Linked DNA regions of Homo sapiens. The protein of the gene in region 1 interacts with the protein of each later gene in a pairwise test. Each region holds a gene or a part of one and is shown in the gene's direction. Other genes may lie near its edges.

What was found.
Region 2: the proteins of GLIS3 (region 1) and NEK6 interact in binary tests that used the Homo sapiens proteins (3 or more experiments, as listed by UniProt).
Region 3: the proteins of GLIS3 (region 1) and ENO1 interact in a two-hybrid assay, tested with the Homo sapiens proteins (one large-scale study listed by BioGRID and IntAct).
Region 4: the proteins of GLIS3 (region 1) and SUFU interact in binary tests that used the Homo sapiens proteins (3 or more experiments, as listed by UniProt).
Region 5: the proteins of GLIS3 (region 1) and KRTAP6-1 interact in binary tests that used the Homo sapiens proteins (3 or more experiments, as listed by UniProt).
Region 6: the proteins of GLIS3 (region 1) and TRIB3 interact in binary tests that used the Homo sapiens proteins (3 or more experiments, as listed by UniProt).

Annotation. Positions count from the first base shown.
Region 1 is NC_000009.12:3,823,558-3,825,882, reverse strand, and holds the end of GLIS3 (zinc finger protein GLIS3), read left to right. Parts: 3' UTR 1-1,756; downstream 1,757-2,325. UniProt on the Homo sapiens protein: Acts both as a repressor and an activator of transcription. Binds to the consensus sequence 5'-GACCACCCAC-3'.
Region 2 is NC_000009.12:124,260,949-124,264,552, forward strand, and holds part of NEK6 (serine/threonine-protein kinase Nek6), read left to right. Parts: intron 1-145; exon of another isoform or gene 146-220; intron 221-519; exon of another isoform or gene 520-635; intron 636-1,967; exon of another isoform or gene 1,968-1,997; coding exon of another isoform or gene 1,998-2,070; intron 2,071-2,076; exon of another isoform or gene 2,077-2,552; intron 2,553-3,604. UniProt on the Homo sapiens protein: Protein kinase which plays an important role in mitotic cell cycle progression. Required for chromosome segregation at metaphase-anaphase transition, robust mitotic spindle formation and cytokinesis.
Region 3 is NC_000001.11:8,868,596-8,872,199, reverse strand, and holds part of ENO1 (alpha-enolase), read left to right. Parts: intron 1-213; coding exon 214-309; exon of another isoform or gene 310-1,316; coding exon of another isoform or gene 1,317-1,375; exon of another isoform or gene 1,376-1,689; coding exon 1,690-1,748; intron 1,749-3,604. UniProt on the Homo sapiens protein: Glycolytic enzyme the catalyzes the conversion of 2-phosphoglycerate to phosphoenolpyruvate. In addition to glycolysis, involved in various processes such as growth control, hypoxia tolerance and allergic responses.
Region 4 is NC_000010.11:102,590,938-102,594,541, forward strand, and holds part of SUFU (suppressor of fused homolog), read left to right. Parts: intron 1-1,644; coding exon 1,645-1,787; intron 1,788-2,698; coding exon 2,699-2,784; intron 2,785-3,055; coding exon 3,056-3,128; intron 3,129-3,604. UniProt on the Homo sapiens protein: Negative regulator in the hedgehog/smoothened signaling pathway. Down-regulates GLI1-mediated transactivation of target genes. Down-regulates GLI2-mediated transactivation of target genes. Part of a corepressor complex that acts on DNA-bound GLI1.
Region 5 is NC_000021.9:30,612,931-30,615,216, reverse strand, and holds KRTAP6-1 (keratin-associated protein 6-1), read left to right. Parts: upstream 1-1,286; 5' UTR 1,287-1,312; coding exon 1,313-1,528; 3' UTR 1,529-1,786; downstream 1,787-2,286. UniProt on the Homo sapiens protein: In the hair cortex, hair keratin intermediate filaments are embedded in an interfilamentous matrix, consisting of hair keratin-associated proteins (KRTAP), which are essential for the formation of a rigid and resistant hair shaft through their extensive disulfide bond cross-linking with abundant cysteine residues of hair keratins.
Region 6 is NC_000020.11:383,758-387,361, forward strand, and holds part of TRIB3 (tribbles homolog 3), read left to right. Parts: intron 1-3,604. UniProt on the Homo sapiens protein: Inactive protein kinase which acts as a regulator of the integrated stress response (ISR), a process for adaptation to various stress. Inhibits the transcriptional activity of DDIT3/CHOP and is involved in DDIT3/CHOP-dependent cell death during ER stress.

The DNA of each region.
Region 1 (2,325 bases):
GGAGCCCCAGAGGGACATTTTATCTCAGAGAGAGCATGCTGGCCACAGGACCCAGTGCAGCCCTGCTTCCCGCACCGTGGGTCTTTCCTGATAGCTGCAGGCTTGAGATTGCAGCCTCAGGATAGGACACGTTCAGATGCCTTCCAGACTACACACACTATGCTTAGATTCGAGAGTCTTTCCTGACCTTAAAATTTGTCCCTTGCTTACTTTCACACTGCAGAAGATTTATATATATATTCATCATTATTTTTGCAGCAGTACAAGTGGAAACTTCAAAAAAATCATTCCCTTTCATGTCCTGGTCTTTTTAAGTCTTGATATGTAACCATTTTCATAAATGTCCAAACAGAGATTGTCATTCCCCTTAAAAACAGAAACAAAACACAAAACTAGTGCTTGTGAAAACACACAGCGCAAAGACAATTATCCTATTGCATTAAAAAAAAAATCAGTCTGCCTAGAGACATTTCATTGGCTGCATTGTCTTAATTCCCTAACGAAACTGCATCAAAATGTCAGTTGTAATTTAGCCTCTGATCAGCTGTTAAATATTATTTAAATATTTACAGGTCCTGTGGGGTATCTCCCATTACCCATGTCGCCCTCAAATTACATAAGCGATCATAAAATAAGAAGAAAAAAAAAGGTCTTTAGTAGATCACAGCAGAGTTACCACTGATAAGAGTGTTGGCTTTGTTCAGTTGTTTCTAAATTACCAGCCGTCAAGCACAGTAGCCCCTAAAACCAATTTTGAGCAAGGATAAATTCAACTCCCTCATCTGAGAACCTTGACTTTCCAGTTGCCTTGAAGTATTGGGAATAGTAACTGTACATTTTCAATTTAATTATTTGGTATTTTATTTGACTGTCTTGGCCATGTCATTTTATGGAAGCATTTTTAAATAGCACTTTTTGTTAGTGGTGTGGAATTTCTGCGGTTATTATTTTTTTTTTTTTTTGCAACAGATGAAGCAAAAAAAAAAAAGCACTCATTGGAGAAATAGTGAGTGTAAAAAGAGATTTATTTTGTACAGACAGCAAAGTATCCTGTGTAATGTTGCTGACATAAAGCACTTTGGGGGAAAAAAGTGGAAATCTGTTTTCCATAAATCACACAGACTCTTGTACATAGTTATATACACTCACGTAGAGAAATGAACTGCATATATCATACTGGATATGGGGCCGATTTTACTCTAGAGGCACATCTGGTGCTTATTGTCATAAATCTTTTAAAGAATTAGGTACACTTTTTTCTATTAATATGTATAGTTTTGTGATTTGTCACAGTTATGTTTCATATAATCATAAGTTATTTTGTCTTGTTCATGAAGTCCTTTTTTTATGTCAAAAGTAAAATGAAGGGATTGTGCACTTGGTACAGAATAAAACTGGAAATAGAGAAGACGCCCTCCTGCCTAAAATCCTCCTTCAGCCTGTCGGTTTAAAACACAATGGCAACCATCATTGTTTGTTTGTTTGTTTTTTTGTTTTGTTTTACCATCAGCCTCTTACATACTGGGAATGGTAATTATAATTAAAGGCAGATGATGCGGGAGGGAATGTTCAAGTCCAGCTTTAAAATGCTGCATTGCTTTGGGCCAGAGCTGTAGCCTGGATTTAATTATAGATATGAGGAGGAAATGGCAGTAAAAATGAATGTCTCCCTGAGTCCTTTACATGTTGGGAGTGTCCATAAATAAAACATGAAGTTTTATTTCATCAGATTTAATTAAAGCTTTTATACATGTTTTATTGGTTATTCTATTAATCTGCTTCACAAACCGGATAAATGTGTGCTAGGATTTGGGGTTTATTTGTGCCTTTTCAAAGTAGCGCTACATCATGCTTCAGAAATGCCTCTAGTGCTTGGTACTCCCAGTGCTGGGGTTTCAGCAAGCTGACAGTTGGAGGAGGGGGTCTTTTCAGCCCTGTTTTCCCAAACCCTTCAGAGAAAGACACAAGCATCAGCTTCCCATGATCTGATGCCCTGATCATATAATCTGATTCCCTGGAGAAAGGGGCAGGTACCATTTCCCTGGTTTCCTCATCCTGTCCACTGTGCACGCTTTAGAATACCACCTGTCCCATTGGCTGTGATGAGCTTTCTTCCTCAGCTCCCATCTATGGGGGGATGTGTCAAAATATTCTCACATCTGGTTTACCTGCTAGCCAAGCATGTGAATCCAAAAGAGATCACATCTCAAGGACCAATCTTAGAAAGTTGACTGTTTTCTTGCTGCTTTTTTTTTTTTTTTTTTTTTTTTTTAAGACTTGAGAATTGTTTTAAGAGAAGATACAAACTGGAAGGGACGATGGTCC
Region 2 (3,604 bases), about 120 Mb from region 1:
GGCTGGATGCCTGGCCTGTGCTGAGGTTCAGTGTCGTTTTCCTGATCTTACAGAGAGGGAGGTTAAGTAACTTGGGCAGGGTCATAAACCCACAAATGGCAGAGTCGGGATTCGAACCCATGTCTCTGATTCCAGAGTTCCTCACCTTAAACCACATCTGGCTGCCTTTGTCGTGCTTTGCTCCTGTTGCATGCTGCAAAGCCAAGTAGGTTAAGACAGGCTAGGTTCCTGCAGGGCTGGGTTGCCCGAGACCTGGGAGAGGTCTTCCAGAAGGCACTGCTGGCCTTCCTCGCCCAGGGCCAGAGCTACTGGAGAGAAAGGGCTGCTGTTCACATTTTTTCTTTTCTTTAAGTGCCCCAGATACTTTTCATAAGGGAAGTGTCAAAACAATTGTCAAAAGGAGAAGAATATTTCCTTCCTCTTCTCAGGCTAGACCAAGCAAGGGAGTTGGAGGGTGGAGAGTGGAGGGACCTGGTGAATCATCCAAGATTAAATACGGGCAGGCACTGCCAGGCTTGTGTGGAGATGAGGCTGGGACACTGTTCGCAGGAAGAGTCCGGTGTTCTGGCCCCCTGATGTCACCTTCACGGGCCTGACTCACAGTCCTAAATATCTGACAGCGAGATCGCTTGTAGGTAGGCTTCTTGTCACTTGTCATTTAAGTCCCCTGCCTGCCTTTTTTCCCTGCTCATTTCCATTTCGATCACGGCTTCTACTACATGTGCTTGAAATGAATGTTGTGTGTGAGGACCTGTGTGGTTTGGGCCATGTTGTGCCCCCCTGCCAGTGTCCTTCGGTGTTGAAAGGAAAAGGTATTTCTCTCCCTTCCATGTATGTTCTGCAAATTGACGAACATTTGCAAATTGCTTTGAGATGCGTTAATTTAAGGTGTGAAATAATAGATCTTGTGCGAAGGCTCAGCCACATTTCTGGCATTGATGGATTTTTCTCCCGTCTGGCCTGTGATTTGGGGAGGTAAAAATAGTCCTTTTTTCCACATTTTTATCTTTTTTTTTTTTTGCTGACATCATTCTTAGGAAGTGGTGTGCACATGCCGTGGAACTTTACATGGAACATGGAGCTCTGGGGAGCAGGAGTGCTCTTGGAGTGAGGGGTGGTCTGCGGTGGCCCAGGCACCCCCTGGCTGTCCGTGAAATGGCTTTGAAATGAGCAGGCACTGTTGAGGGCCTCAGTGGCTTTTTGGTATTTGGCTGTCTTTTCACTTATGACTCTTGGGTAATGGCAAGATAACTTTTGGGGAAAATGTTAGTTTAAAAAGAAAAAAAATCAGGCCAGCACTTTCACTCATTCCTGTCTGAGCTGGTCCCTTCCTTTGGCCAAAGCTGAACTAAACCAATGGCCTTCTCAGACTCGACTTCCAGACAGAGGAGCCGACATTGGGGCAAATCAGTTGGTGGTGTAATTTCCTGTGATGTTAACTTTGGGAACTTGAACTTGGAGTGGGAGCTAGCATTTTGACATGTGTCCCTCTAACAGGACTTGCTTGTGTGGAAACAGACCCCCACATACATGGCTGCGCCATTGTCTCCAATTCTGGATTTTTCCACAGATGACTTCTCGGGTGATCTGGTGGTAAAGGCACAGGTCTTCTAGCCAGGCCTTCTTGGCCTCCAGCAAGGGCAGGATCACAGCACCCCACCAGACCTGACTGGCCACCACCGCTGTAGCTGTGGCTGGGCGAGTGGGGGGGCCATGGGAATTGAAAGATGGGGTGGCCGAGATCTGAAATGCATTCAGTTGCAGTGGCCTGGATCTGCACGGAGCCGTTCTTTCTTTCTCTTAGACATCTGCATGGTGGTGACCTCATAGAATTCTAAGAAAAAAGGGGCTTTATGTAGGAATTCCATAGAGTGTGAAGGAATTTGGACAGGGGAAGGGGGAGGGAAGTTGCCATTCAGAGCCTGCAGTGCCTGCATTTTCCCCGAATTGTTTAACCCTCATGCTTCAGAATTAGGCTGAGGCTTGCGGGGTGGGTCATGTTGACCTGGGTGAACAGAGATCCCTTTAAGAAGAACTTCTCCATGTTCCAGAGGCGCGTTCTTACTGCAGGTGAGTGGCAGTATGGGAATTAGTCCACAGGCCCCTTCTCGAATGCCTGCCCTCTCTTGTTCCTTGTCCTCAACGTCTTTGAAACTTGGGCTTGTTGGGAAGACACCTGCAAAAGGATGGATGCACATGACCTTCAGCTCTAATGAATCAAGCTGCTGATGAGGAATTCACTGGGCTCCCAATCCAGAGAGCTTCGCACACACCCACTGGGGTTGAGACGAGCACTGGGTTTATTTATTGTGGACTTTTGGAGTCTGAAGGACTCTTGCCACCCATCTGTTTCACGGAACAGAACCTGAGGCTCAGAGGGAGCAAGGCGCTCCCCCACAGCCGCATTGAGAGCCTGAGCCTGGGCACCCGATGGAGTGAATGAGGCTGGAGTCCCAGACCTGCCTCTCATGAGCACGTCGCCCACTGAGCCTCAGCGTCATCATCTGGAAAACAGGGATAATATTATGACCTCAGAAGCTTCGGGGGAGGAAGTAAGTGAAATAATGCATTTCAGATGCTCAGCGCCTTTTAAGTGCTTGATGCTCATTCCCCAAGATTACATGAGAGACATGGAAAATCTTTAATGACCAAGGACCCACCCAGGGTCACTCAGCCGGGACCCTTGGTCCGTGGCCCAGAGTGTCTCCAGTGCCCCTGCATTGAGGCCCTAAACAAGGCCAGAAGCAGGTGCCGGGGACCCCTCTGGATTCCACCAGAGCACCTTCCTAGGATCATGGCTCCCAAAACGGAAGGGAAGGAGACAGCGCAGTTTGCAAAGAGGCAGGATTTAAGCACCAGGGTGGCCCTGTGGCGCCTCAGGAAAATGTTTGCCTGTCAGTATCTGCTCTCGTTCCCACCTGTCCCCACAAAGCGAGGCCATAAGTCCTCGGCGTGGCATTGGAGGGTCTCTGAAGGCCCTGAGAGCTGTGTCAGCCACGGTGTGTTATGAAGCAAGGCAGATGTTTTGTTAATTATTTACACAGCGTCGGCCCCGCAGAGGACTGCGCTGACAGGAGCGGCTGTCACAGGCCTGGCCGTGGGGCAGAAGTGAGCAGCCGTCTTCCCCTGGCAGTCCTCCTGAAAAGGTCTGCATGGCAAGGCCTGAGGGAGTCCTGCACATTTTATGCCCCCGCCCCCCAAAGCCATTTGGGTTTCCCTTAAACTGGCTTGTTTTCCTGAGCCGGTGGAGAGATCCTTGTCCTCCGGAAGTGGCTATCGCTCTGGGGCGGCTTCTCTGCCAGCTCGTCACACCCTAGACCCAGCTGTAGTCTGTGTGGTGGGAGAGGGTGTCACCAGGCTCTGGAGGTCCACTCCTCTGTAGTCACCTCATGCAAGGAGGGCTTCACAGGGGCCCAGCCTCTACTCCCTCATCCGGAAAACGGGCCAGTAACACCAGGCACCAGCCCCGTGATCCTCAGGCACCCTTGGGGGTGATCTGCCTTAGAAATTCAACTTTAGGATTAGAATTCTGCTAAGAGGTACCATGTGACAAAAAAGGTAGTGTAAAAATCACAAAGACCAGGACAGGCTCATGCCTATAATC
Region 3 (3,604 bases), on another chromosome or scaffold:
GAGGAATTAGTCATCTTTGCAGTAAGTTCTGCAGTACAGGATCATAAACATGTGAAAGGCATGAAGAACAGCCCAGAGCGTTTAATTCACACAGCTGGTAGGAGGAAGAAACAGCTCCCTAATGACAAATGCATCTGTGGGCGGGAGGGGACTTGGGATTGTGCTGGAACTGGATTTCTGAATTGCTACTACATCTTTTTTCCTCTCATCCAGGTCTCTTCAGAGCTGCTGTGCCCAGTGGTGCTTCAACTGGTATCTATGAGGCCCTAGAGCTCCGGGACAATGATAAGACTCGCTATATGGGGAAGGGTAAGCCTTAGAACCCACAGCCCATGGCCTCCCTGCTTCCAGCCCCATTCCTGGCCTTGCCCAGTCCTGTCCTCTCTGGGTGGCACTTGCACTTGCAGGTTTATGGCAGGTAAACCTGCTGTGACCCATGATGTTGATGGAAGCAGTGCACCACCTTGTGGACAGGAAAGTTGGTGTGTGGATTCCGGGGTTCCCGAGCCTGCATGCTCTGGGTCGAGAGTTCCAATGCTTGCTTCTATTGCAGTTTGTTCCCAATCTGCGAAATACTCCTTCACGGTTAGGACAGGAACCCAAGCATGAGAACAGGGCCTGTTAACTAAAGAAAAGTTTCCCCATCTCCCAGGAGGGTTCTGTGGGCCCTCCAGAGATCATCAGCCTCTTCACGGGCTAGAAAGGATCCAGGGAAGGTCTAACCAATGACCTGCCCTGAATGGTGAGCTGCAGGTGTGTCATTTAGTGTGATTTTCCTGTTGACTGACTCATAGGAGCCCTGCTCTGTGGCAGAGCTAGCCTCTGGCTGTATTCAAATTGACTTAGTGTGTGTGCAACATTGACCTTTCTAGAGATAGAACATGTGGCCAAATTACAGAAAAGCACATAGGGCTAGATCACGCATTCTCAGTGGGGCACCCGGAAAACTCCAAAAAGGCTGCAGGGAGGGGACAATGATGAAATCAGGTTGTGAAACACTGGGCTGGTGTCGCAGTGGTGGTGCTGGGTGTTCAGTCCCGCTTTAATGCTGTAAGAAGCACTCTACACACACGAACATGTTACCATTTGACCGTTGTTTAATGGCGTACGTGGGGACTTAGCCGGAGCAGGATGATGCTGTGCCTTGATGGTAATGAGTGCTCAGTAAGTAAGCATTTGTGGAAGATTGAACGCATGGCCCCTGAAATGCTCTCCTCTGCTTTCCTGCCCCCTCACTGTCTCTCACTCGCAGTCCTTAATCACCGGTTCTCTTCTGAGTCTCTCTCATTTTTCCTTCTTCATCCTCTGCTGGGCAGGCGTCTCCAGACCCATTAAGTATATTAATGAGTTCCTGGCACCAGCCCTGTGCACTCAGGTAACTGATTGAACAGCCTTTAGTCTGCAGTTGGCGTTTCCAGTGCATGGTCTTGCAAACTAACCTCCAGTCAGATCGTTCTGAGCCAGCTGCTGTTTTGTGTGGCTCTAACCCTCTGGGGTCCTAGGTAGGAGCACTCAGACTGGGCCGGAAAGTCCTCCGATTCTGGGGGGAAAGGGGAGAGGGGGAAGAGGTCCCACAGAAGGTCCCTTGGTGGGCTTCCGCGTCGGCCTCAACAGTGGTTCTCTCTAACAATGCTGCTCAAGCCTGTTTTAAAGTTAATGTCAGTAATTTGATTTGATTGTTCCTTCCAGGTGTCTCAAAGGCTGTTGAGCACATCAATAAAACTATTGCGCCTGCCCTGGTTAGCAAGGTAGGACCTGCCTCCTGATAACTAATGTGTCTAATGCCACCAGAGCGTCTCCCAGGCCCAGGGGCTTTCCTGTTTATGGAAGAGCTTATTCTGAGAGCTGTAGAAGCCTATTGGATTCCCTGTCACGCACGAGAACAATCCATGCATGACATAATTCTAACCTGCCCGCTGCCTCACCCCACTTTTGGGAGCAGATGGAATTGCATCAGAAGAATGAGACACTTCGAGCCCTGAGGTTTCTTCCCCCCTGCAACTCTCTGGACCTTTGAAGAAATTAAGATCCAGATTTTAAGAGTGGCTCTCAGGGGTGTTTGTGGTAGTGTCCATGGTGACTAATTTCTCATGAACTTTGGAATTATTTACTATAATTCTACTGACTTTAACAGTGGAGTTCCTGTTAAGTAAAATCTGGAAATCTCAGTATGTCAAACATAAAAGAGCTGCTGGAGGTGAAGTAGGGCTGGGGACCCAGCAACCCACCCGACTCTGCAGGTTTTATCTCATTTACCCTCCCTTCGGCCCGTCCCTCCGTAATTCCTGTGGCGCTCATCAGATGGGACTGGTTTGAAAACCCCTGTCTAAAAACACTCCGGGCCAGGTGCAGTGGCTCACACCTGTAATCCCAGCACTTTGGGAAGCTGAGGTGTGTGGATCACTTGAGGTCAGGAGTTGGAGACCAGTCTAGCCAACATGGTGAAACCCTATCTCTACTAAAAGTACAAAAATTGGCCGGGCATGGTGGTGCACGCCTGTAGTCCCAGCTACTTGGGAGTCTGAGACATGAGAATCGCTTGAAGCTGGGAGGCAGAGGTTGCAGTGAGCAGAGATTGTGCCACTGCACTCCAGCCTGGGCAACAGAGTGAGACTCTGTCTCAAAAAATAAAAATAACAAAGCTCTCTAGGCCCAGTCCAAGCCCAGCCACAGCCTCCGTCTATTCTTGAATCTAGTCCCTCTCCTCCATGAATTCATTCTGTACACGAGGGAAAAGGAGGAGTTCCTTTGTTGTCTCTGTCCCTGACTCGTTGGTTTAGGCCTGGCTTTTGTGGCACTCTGTAATTACTCCCTGCCCGACCAGCCCCCAGACAAAATGTCTTGTTACCGTTCTGTCTGCACCACCCCCTGCCAGTCTCCCGGACACCTCCACACATACCTTGTTCTCTGTCCCTTCATACCCCTGCATAGTGTGACTCACACGATGAGCAGGATCCCCTGACTTTTTTTTAACCCCCTAGAGAAACATACCAAACTGTTAGTGAGAATTGACCTCTGAAGCTGTGTGCTTGGGTAACTGCCTGCCTGTTGCAGTGATGCCTTGACAAAGCTGTGAAAGACACCAAATTGCTCATACAGCATGATGGGATCAGAGTTGATTTTCTTTGCATATTTTTTTATATCAAGCACATCATAGATAAAAATAATGCCTTGTTATTAATATATTAGTTTAAAATGGAATGCTGATTTTTGGCTGGGTGCAGTGGCTAACGCCTGTAATTCCAACACTTTAGGAGGACTTTAGGAGGCTGAGGTGGGCAGATCCCTTGAGGCCAGGAGTTTGAGACCAGCCTGGGCAACATGGCAAAGCCCATCTCTATAAAAAAAAAATATAAAAATTAGCCAGGCATGATGGTGCATGCCTATAGTCCCAGCTGAGTTTGGAGGATCATTTGAGCCCACGAGGTGGAGGTTGCAGTGAGCTGAGATCGTGACACTGCATTCCTGCCTTGGCAACAGAATGAGACTCTGTCTTAAAAAATAAAAATTAAAAAATTAAAAAGTAATACTGATTTTTATTGGATTACTTTGAGCCAGTTCTCAGTACGTCAGTTTTGTTACTTTATAGTCTCATCAAAAATTC
Region 4 (3,604 bases), on another chromosome or scaffold:
CTCCCCTGTATTATCACATCTCAGATGAAGCAGTCTTCCTTCTCCTGCCTGAATGAACACTATTGAGGTTAGGACCAATAACTGAAGCCGTATCTTGGATGGAAAAGGTGTGTCTGTGTGTGTATGTGTGTGTTCTGCCTTACCTTAAATATTGATAAAAAGTGAAGAAAGATACCTCAACTGTTGAGATTCCGAGATCGTGAATGACAGACCATAGTGAACTCTGGAACAGCCATTTAAAGAATGAGATAGCTCTCCATATGCTGAGAAGCAGTGATCTCTGCTGGGTGCTGTGGCTCATACTTGTAATCCCCGCACTTTGGGAGGCCGAGGAGGGCGGATCACGAGGTCAGGAGATCGAGGCCATCCTGGCTAACACCGTGAAATCCCACCTCTACTAAAAATACAAAAAATTAGCCAGGTGTGGTGGCACATGCCAGTAATCCCAGCTACTCAGGAGGCTGAGGCAGGAGAATCGCTTGAACCCAGGAGGCGGAGGTTGCAGTGAGCAGAGATCGCGCCACTGCACTGCAGCCTGGCAACAGAGCGAGACTCCATCTCAAAAAAAAAAAAAAAAGGTGATCTCGTGCTCACTTCAGCAGCACATATACTAAAATTGGAACGATACAGAGAAGATTAGTATGGCCCCTGCGCAAGGATGACATGCAAATTCGTGAAGTGTTCCATATTAAAAAAAAAAAGGTGCTGTCTAAGATATATAATTAAGTGAAATCTGCAGAATAGTGTGCTTCCATTTGTGTAAGGACAAAACATGGAAGGGAGCCTGTGGATGCATAGGCTGGACATATAGAGCACCTTGGCACCCACGATGAGAGTCAGAGCTGGTGAGAGACTTAGTACCCTGTGGGGTTGTTTTCCCTTGTGGTTATGTGGCCTTAAACAAAACTCTCTCTAAAGTAACGTACCTGCTTGAAGTGCAGTGGTGAGCCTGTGTGTGAGGAGGCTATGCCCTCATGGCAACAGCTACCCTTGGCAGAATCTGAACATCTCAGAGACATGGCCTGAGGATCCTCATGAGTTGTCTCTGCCACGGTGTGGGAGGCACTATTTAGACCTCCATTTACTTGAAGCCTAGTGTTCCTCAGGAATTCCTACATCTGCCTGTGGGAAAATGGTGATAGATTTCAAAGGCTCTCCAAGGTTCGATGTTTCCTTCTGAGTGCCATTTCAGCAACATAGGAATTTCGGTCTGTTTCTCCAAGGTGAAGGGCTTTCATTGCCCTGTTGCCTCTCTGTGGACTTCTGGCCAGGTGGCCCTACAGAAAAGCACCTTATTCTTTCTTGGCAGATCCAGTCATGGCTCCTGCCTCCCACCATGAGTCGGGATATTGGGGAAGCGAAGCAGATGCCAGAAGTCTTTCTGGTTTCCCAGGCCGAAGGAGCTTTCACACTAATAGCCTGTCCTTTTCAAGTCTGACAGAACTGGCAAGCAGGAACAATTTAGGTTTTTGGAAATATCCACAAACTCTTTGCTTCCATCCGGAGTGAATGCTTCTCTTCCTTCACAGGGGCTACCCTAAGAGGCTGGGAAGCCTCCCAGCCTGGGCTAGTGAGATCCCAGCCCAGATTCCAGGCCTGGATCTGGGGCCTTGAACAATGAGGATCCTTGTATCTCTCCCACAGAGAACACCTTCTGCAGTGGGGACCATGTGTCCTGGCACAGCCCTTTGGATAACAGTGAGTCAAGAATTCAGCACATGCTGCTGACAGAGGACCCACAGATGCAGCCCGTGCAGACACCCTTTGGGGTAGTTACCTTCCTCCAGGTGAGGCACAGGTTGGACGCTGGCTCAAGCCTTCCTGTGGGAAGGGTCCTGGGAGGACAAGGAGGCTTGAGGAGGGGGAGTGAAGGGAGTGGGAGGTTTCCTTTGGCCTCGTCCTGATTTCTGTTTCCTCTGATGGTTTGTCAGGTAGATTCAGATGGTCTGATTTAACCTGCTGAGATGGGAGAGGGGAGAAAGGGAAGGGGGCATTTGGTTGGGAGAGAATGGCTGTAGCTGAGAGGGAGTAATGGGGTGGCGGGTATTCTTTGAACAGTGAAGACCCAGTCTCAGGAACAGGACTTTCCAGCGGGAAGCCAGCTCTGGGTCGTCCTTGCTCTTTGCCAGAAGCTGTGGGAACCTGCCCAGCTTTGACCAGTGCTTGTTTTTGGTCACGAAGTCTATGTGAAGGTTCCACTGATTCCCTTGATATTTACACAAAGGCCTATCCCCTAATAAGGAAGGGAGGAGTTTCTCTGCAGGCTGCTATGACCTATTGGTGGTGGTTCCAAGCCTGATAGGTCTCAAAGTCTCTTGTTTACATTCCCCATGATACCAGACTGGGTAGGAATGGCTCCCTGAACCTCCCCTACTTCCAGAGACATGGCCTGAGGACACATCTTGAGTTGCTCAGGCCTTGGTTTTCTCCTTTGTAGCTAAGAGCTAGACTTGGTGTCATCCAGACACAGCAAGGGCAAGGGTCAGGCCTCAGGGCCCACATGTGGACCCAGCCATTTCCCAGCCAGGCAGCCACTCCCTCCTAAGGGAATCATCCAATCTTGGCTGCACCAGCTCCTGAGCACAGATCCTGCCTGTGGTCTCCCAACTGGAGGTGACTCAGAGAGCCTGGGTAGCTGACCTTCTTGGGGTGGGGGGTGGCCATTAACACACAATGGGCTTTCTATCCTGGGCCTCAGATCGTTGGTGTCTGCACTGAAGAGCTACACTCAGCCCAGCAGTGGAACGGGCAGGGCATCCTGGAGCTGCTGCGGACAGTGCCTATGTGAGTACCCATGCAAGGTGGGAGCGCGGCTCCCTGGGCCTGGGGGTGGGAGTCCCTCCACTACCCTCCATGTGGGGCTCCCTCTTGCGTTGTTATTTCAGACCCTGGTTTTTCACATCAGGGCTTCCTGACGACTCACTCCCTGACAGTCCCTGACCACGAACTATTCCCCTGTGTCCTAGGCCTGGGGCAGCAAACAGGGCAGGCTGTAGGCCCAGCCCATCAGCCCCAGACCCTCAGTTACCATTGTATCCCCTTTCCTTGTCCACAGTGCTGGCGGCCCCTGGCTGATAACTGACATGCGGAGGGGAGAGACCATATTTGAGATCGATCCACACCTGCAAGTATGTCTTGAGTGAGGAAAACCTTTCTAGCACCCTGTGCCTAGGCCTCTTCCAAATAACACTGGCTTTCATCCTGGGAAAACAGAGGACCTTTATGTGTGAGTGAGTAGAAATATGGCATCACTTGGAACTTGTCCCCTGAATTCTGCAGAGCACGTAGGGAGCAGAGGTTTCAGCCCAGGAAAGCTAGTCCTCAGACATATGTATTTTGGCATTTTAAAAGGATATTTTTATTGTATGTAAATTATATATTGGCTTAAAAAATTAGATTGCCAGCAATAAAAGATAAGTGTAGTGGATATTGCTTGCTTGCCCAGTATTCATTCTCCTGCCTCCCAGACTTTCTTTTAGGGAGCCACCACGGCCACCACCGCCCTGTACCAGACAGTAGTGTAGGTGATACTGACTCCATGGCTCAGCTGCAGGAGTGAGGGCTGATTGGTCTAATGGTCCTATCCCCATTTTCGCCACATTTT
Region 5 (2,286 bases), on another chromosome or scaffold:
GAAGCTTCTATCCAGAAAAACAGGGATGGGATGAAATAAGTAAAGACAGCAAAATTTATTCTAGTATTCTGGTTCCTACTATGAACCAAACACTATTCAAAGTGTCTGGTATGTATCAAAAGATTTGATTTTCTAAATTTCCTTGTGGGGTAGGTATCATTATTACAATCCCATTTGCAGATAGGGCAGCTGAAGCATGTAGTTAACAGTGGTCAGACAGCTATGGATAGTAGAGGTAAAATTTGAGCCTAGAAAGCACATTACAGATATTTTACTCTTATTTACTATATTCAACTCACTCTTATAAAGTCATCTTACTAAGAATATAAGTCCAGAGGGCTACTTGACTTAATCATTCAATTTAGCTCTGATCTTCACTGCTTTGAAAAAAGATTAGGCTATAGTAACATGTTCCTCATAGTCTCATATTTTGCCAAAGACTTCTTGTTTGATGGTGGAAATATAGTAGGTTGCATGAAAAGATACTTCTGCCAGTATTATTGTTTTAAATATGAAAATACCTATACTTACTTTTGAGCCAGAACACAAATATAACAAATGCCTTGAAATTTCAGGAAAATTTTTATAAAAATACAATTTTATAAATAAAATGAAACCTCATTGATTACGAATTTGAAACTATGGGAAAGAACTATTGTTTTAAAACAGTCACAAAAGGAAATATTGATGTGAGAAAGAAAAGTATAGTTTTCTCATGCCTGGTATTTTAGAATTTCAAACTATTGGCTTTGTGTCAACAGTCTCTGGAAGCTGAGTGACACTTTCTGGCTTTTAAAAGAAAACCATCTCTCATGTGAAAATGAGAAGAATTCCTAAAGGAAAACAATGGGTTTGGAGCAGCAGGAAAGAGATGGAGAAACTCAAGCTCAAGGGAGATTACCATGACCTGTTGAATGTCAGCAAAAATAAGGTAAAATTATTGGTTGTTTAGAACAGGTCAGTTTGTTTACTAAAATGCTATTTCTTGCCATAAAGGCTGGTTGGAAAATGGTAATTTGAATGTCTGGTGTGAGTAGAGTTTTAAAGATCAGACAGTTGATGCTCATTAAAGATGCACAAATGTTTCAGATGTGGCTGAACAATAGAAAATGTTCTAAATGCCACAAGGCCACGATTGAAAACCAAGAGTCAACAAATTACTCATGCTGGTCCTTCAAATTAGCCAATGGCATGACTTGTGTATGGTTCCCACCCACACTGAGGCATATAAAAGGCCCTCTGCAGGGGAAGTGTTCATACTGAAGTCACCTACACTTCCTCCTACCCAAGGACAACCTCCACAACCAACACCATGTGTGGCAGCTACTACGGAAACTACTATGGCACCCCTGGCTATGGGTTCTGTGGCTATGGAGGCCTGGGCTATGGCTATGGAGGCCTGGGCTGTGGCTATGGCTCCTGCTGTGGCTGTGGCTTCCGCAGACTGGGCTGTGGCTATGGCTATGGCTCCCGCTCCCTCTGTGGCTATGGCTATGGATGCGGCTCTGGCTCTGGCTACTATTATTGAGGATGCCATGGGAGACTCTCACCCTCTATCCTGTGATACTGAGATTCACTAATTCTGAAGCCCACATGTTCTGAGATTTTCCCTTGAGTGATGATATCCTGCAATGGAAGTCTAATATGGTCTGTTGTTGAGCTACCATCTAACCTACAAATATCTTGAATTTCCATCATGAAACGGGATAAGGTAAAATTCACCTGTCAGTTCTCCTTTCATCAGAATGATGGTGTCACATCATCTGCCTTGATGACTTTTATGATGGAGCTTTTTTCTCTGTTCACCTAATAAACACATTTAATCCAGAAGAGAAACCTGGTGTTTATGTCAATCATTTAATATTTAAAATTTCTTACCAATAGTTTTTGTTTCAGTTTGCATGAAAGCTAACAATTAAATTCTTTGGGAGATATTTTTCTTACAATTTCTAGAGAGGTTTCTTTGCCAATTCAAAGCTCAATTGTTTTAGAAAAGTAAGCTTTTTAATAAATTTCAGTTTCCTCCTTTGCTTCTAGGGGAAGAATTTATGTTGTGCTGAGTAATTCTCAATACTAAATTAAGTACCTATCATTTATATGTTGGGTTATGCATTGCCTGCTGTCTGTCACATAACAAAGAAAAAATTTAATTTTCCGAAGCCTTCTTGTGCATATCTCCTAAAATAAATGAATGCTTGTTACTATATCCTTCATTTTGAATCTTCCATTTTAAAGAAACTATTTTTTAATGAGACATAACCAAAGGAATAGTTTTATAATCTAGTA
Region 6 (3,604 bases), on another chromosome or scaffold:
TGTCAAAATGCACTCCTCAGAGGTGGTACCTTTTATCCTCCCACTAGCACTGTCTTCATTGTTAGTGGCTGCACTGCCACTATTCCACAGTATAAACCCACTTTTCATGACACTGCCAAGACATAAGGGTCTGAAATACTTAACAGTTTTCTTCCACAGTCCCCAAAATACAGGCTTCTCCCCCAGCTCAGGACATGAAGCCATCATCCCTCCTCATTGCAGGAGCCAAAGGCTGGACCTCACCTCGATTCCACCCTCTCCTTCACCCCTCACATCCAATCCATCCAGTCCATCCAGTCTGCCACTGAGTCCTCTTGATCTTCCTCCTATGAGCCCTTAACTTCGCGTCTCCATCTAGCACCCCCTAGTCCAGGTCACCTTCTCCTGCCTGGACTCGTGCTTGTGTGGGCCTCCTAGCTAGTCTCACTGCCCCGTCTTGTACTTTCAAATCCACCCTAAAAGCATGATGTTCCCCTGCTGAAATCCTTCAGTGGCTCCCCACTGCCTTTGGATAATTCCAAATCCTATTGTGTGTTAATTAGGATTAGGCTCAGCTGTAATATAGAAACAGCCACTTAATAGCTAAAATGAAATAGACGTTTTTTTCTTCTTTTTCTCTTTTTTTGAGACAGAGTCTTGCTCTGTCCCCAGGCTGGAGTGCAGTGGCGAGATCTCAGCTCACTACAACCTCTGCCTCCCAGGCTCAAGTGATTCTCCTGCCTCAGCCTCCCGAGTAGCTGGGACTACAGGCATGCACCACCATGCCCACCTAATTTTTGTATGTTTAGTAGAGATGGGGTTTCACCATGTTGGCCAAGATGGTCTCGATCTCCTGACCTTGTGATCTGCCTGCCTCGGCCTCCCAAAGTGCTGGGATTACAGGCATGAGCCACTGCGCCCAGCCTTCAATAGATGTTTATTTCTCTCCTGTGTAAAAAACCTGGAGGTCTGGCCTGACAACTCCATGTGTCAGGGACCTAGGCTCCTCTCTTGCTCTACTGTATGTGGTACTTCTGAAGCCAAGGTAGATGCTGGAGCTCCAGCAGTTAGGTCCACATTCCAGCATACAGGAAAGGAGGAAATGAGGAAGTTGGGCCCTCCCTTTAAGAACACTGTCCTGGGCATTGTACACAACACTTCCACTTGTGTCCTACTAGCCATATGCTGATACAAGGATACAAGGGAGACAGGAAATGCAGTTTATTCTAGGTGTCCTTGTGCTCAGCTGAAAATCTCAGGTTCTAATCCTATGTAAGGAGGGGAGACCTGAAACTGGGGACCACTAACCACCTCTGCCATATGATGCTCGTAGAGCCCTTCACAATAGGGCCTCTACTAACCTCACCTTATTTTTATTTATTTATTTATTTTTGAGACGGAGTTTCACTCTTGTCGCCCAGGCCGGAGTGCAATGACACTATCTCAGCTCACCGCAACCTTTGCCTCCTGGGTTCAAGCAACTCTCCTGCCTCAGACTCCTGAGTAGCTGGGATTACAGGCGTGTGCCACCACGCCCGGCTAATTTTTGTAGTTTTAGTAGAGACGGGGTTTCACCATGTTGGTCAGGCTGGTCTCAAACTCCTGACCTCAGGTGACCTGCCTGCCTCGGCCTCCCAAAGTGCTGGGATTACAGGTGTGAGCCACCACGCCCGGCCTATTTTTTTTTTTTTTTTAACTTTTCACTTTTTTTTGCAGTCACGCTCATTCTCCACCGTGTTCTTGGGGAACATGCAGCATGTTCTTTTGCCTCTTCCCTCACCCCAGAACAGGGGTTACTGGACAGCGGCATCAACTTCACCTGGGAACTGGATAGAAATGCAGATTCAGACCTTCTGAATGAGCTACTTTGGGAGTAGGGCCCAGCAATGTATGTTGAAACAGGCCTCCAGATGATCTCAATGCTTGCTCAAGTTTGAGAACCACTGAACCGCAGTATGACTCTCCGTGTCACCTGGCTAACTCTGCCTCACTTTCAGGTCTCAGTGTAGACACCACCTCTTCTAGGAAGACCTCTCTTGACCCACCAGCCCAGGAGAGAGGCCTCTCTGGGTTCCTAGAGGCCCATGCTTCTCTGTATAGTAGGGCTGATCACACTGTATGTGATTTTTTTTTTTTTTTTTGAGAGAGTCTTTACTCTGTCACCAGGCTGGAGTGCAGTGGCACAAACATGGCTCACTGAAGCCTCAACCTCCCAGGCTCAAGCAATCTTCCCACCTCAGCCTCCCAAGTAGCTGGGACTACAGGCATCCACCACCACACCCAGCTAATTAAAAAAAAATTTTTTTTTGTAGAGACAGGGTCTCACTATGTTGCCCAAGCTGGTCTTGAACTTTTGGGTTCAAGCAGTCTTCCCACCATGGCCTTCCAAAGTGCTAGGATTACAGGTGTGGGCCACTGCACCTAGCCTTGGACGTGATTTTATTACTCATCTGCCCTCCAAATTGACTGGAAGATCCTGACGGCAAGACTGCTGTCTAACCTACTTCTCTTCCTAGCACCCAGTGTTAAGTGAATGAACAAGATCATATCTCTCATCTGTGAATGTACGAGAGCCATGGATTATGAGATTAGTTGATTTTCTTAACTATAATTTTTAGAAACAAGCTGTGTTTTTAAGCAGGTATTTATTTCCTTAAATGTACATTTCTGATTACAAAATACTTTTTTTTGAGACAGAGTCTTGCTCTGTCACCCAGGCTGGAGTGTAGTGGCACAATCTCGGCTCATTACAACCTCTGCCTCCTGGGTTCAAGCGATTCTCCTGCCTCAGCCTTCCCAGTAGCTGGGATTACAGGTATGCACCACCACGCCCGGCTAATTTTTTTTTTCTCCCGTGACGGAGTCTTGTTCTGTTGGCCAGGCTGAAGTGCAGTGGTGTGATCTCAGCTCACTGCAACCTCCACCTCCCGGGTTCAAGTGATTCTCCTGTCTCAGCCTCCCAAGTAGCTGGGATTACAGGCCCACGCCACCACGCCTGGCTAATTTTTCTATTTTTAGTAGAGATGGGGTTTCACCATGTTGGCCAGGCTGGTCTCAAACTCCTGACCTCATGATCCACCACCTTGGCCTCCCAAAGTGCTGCCGTGGGCTGCACTTTGGCATTGCCTTGGTCACGTGCTGCTACCTGGGATTACAGGCATAAGCCACTGCGCCTGGCCTAATTTTTGTATTTTTTAGTAGAGACAGGGTTTCACCATGTTGGCCAGGCTGGTCTTGAACTCCCAGCCTCATGATTCGCCCACCTTGGCCTCCCAAAGTGCTGGGATTACAGGCGTGAGCCACCACGCCTGGCCAGGAAATACATTTACATGGCTCAAATTCAAAACTATAAAAGTCGGCCAAACATGGTGACTCACATCTGTAATCCTAACACTTTGGGAGGCTGAGGCAGGAGGATTGCTTGAGCTCAGGTGAGACCAGCCTAGGCAATGTAGGGAGACCCCCATCTCTACAAAGAATAAAAAAAAATTAGTCAGGCATCATAGTGCACACCTGTAGTCCCAGCTACTTGGGAGGCTGAGGTGGAAGAATCACCTGAACCCTGAGGTCGAGGCTGCAAGTGAACTGTAATAGTAAGAGTCTCCTCCTAATCTTGTGCATCCTT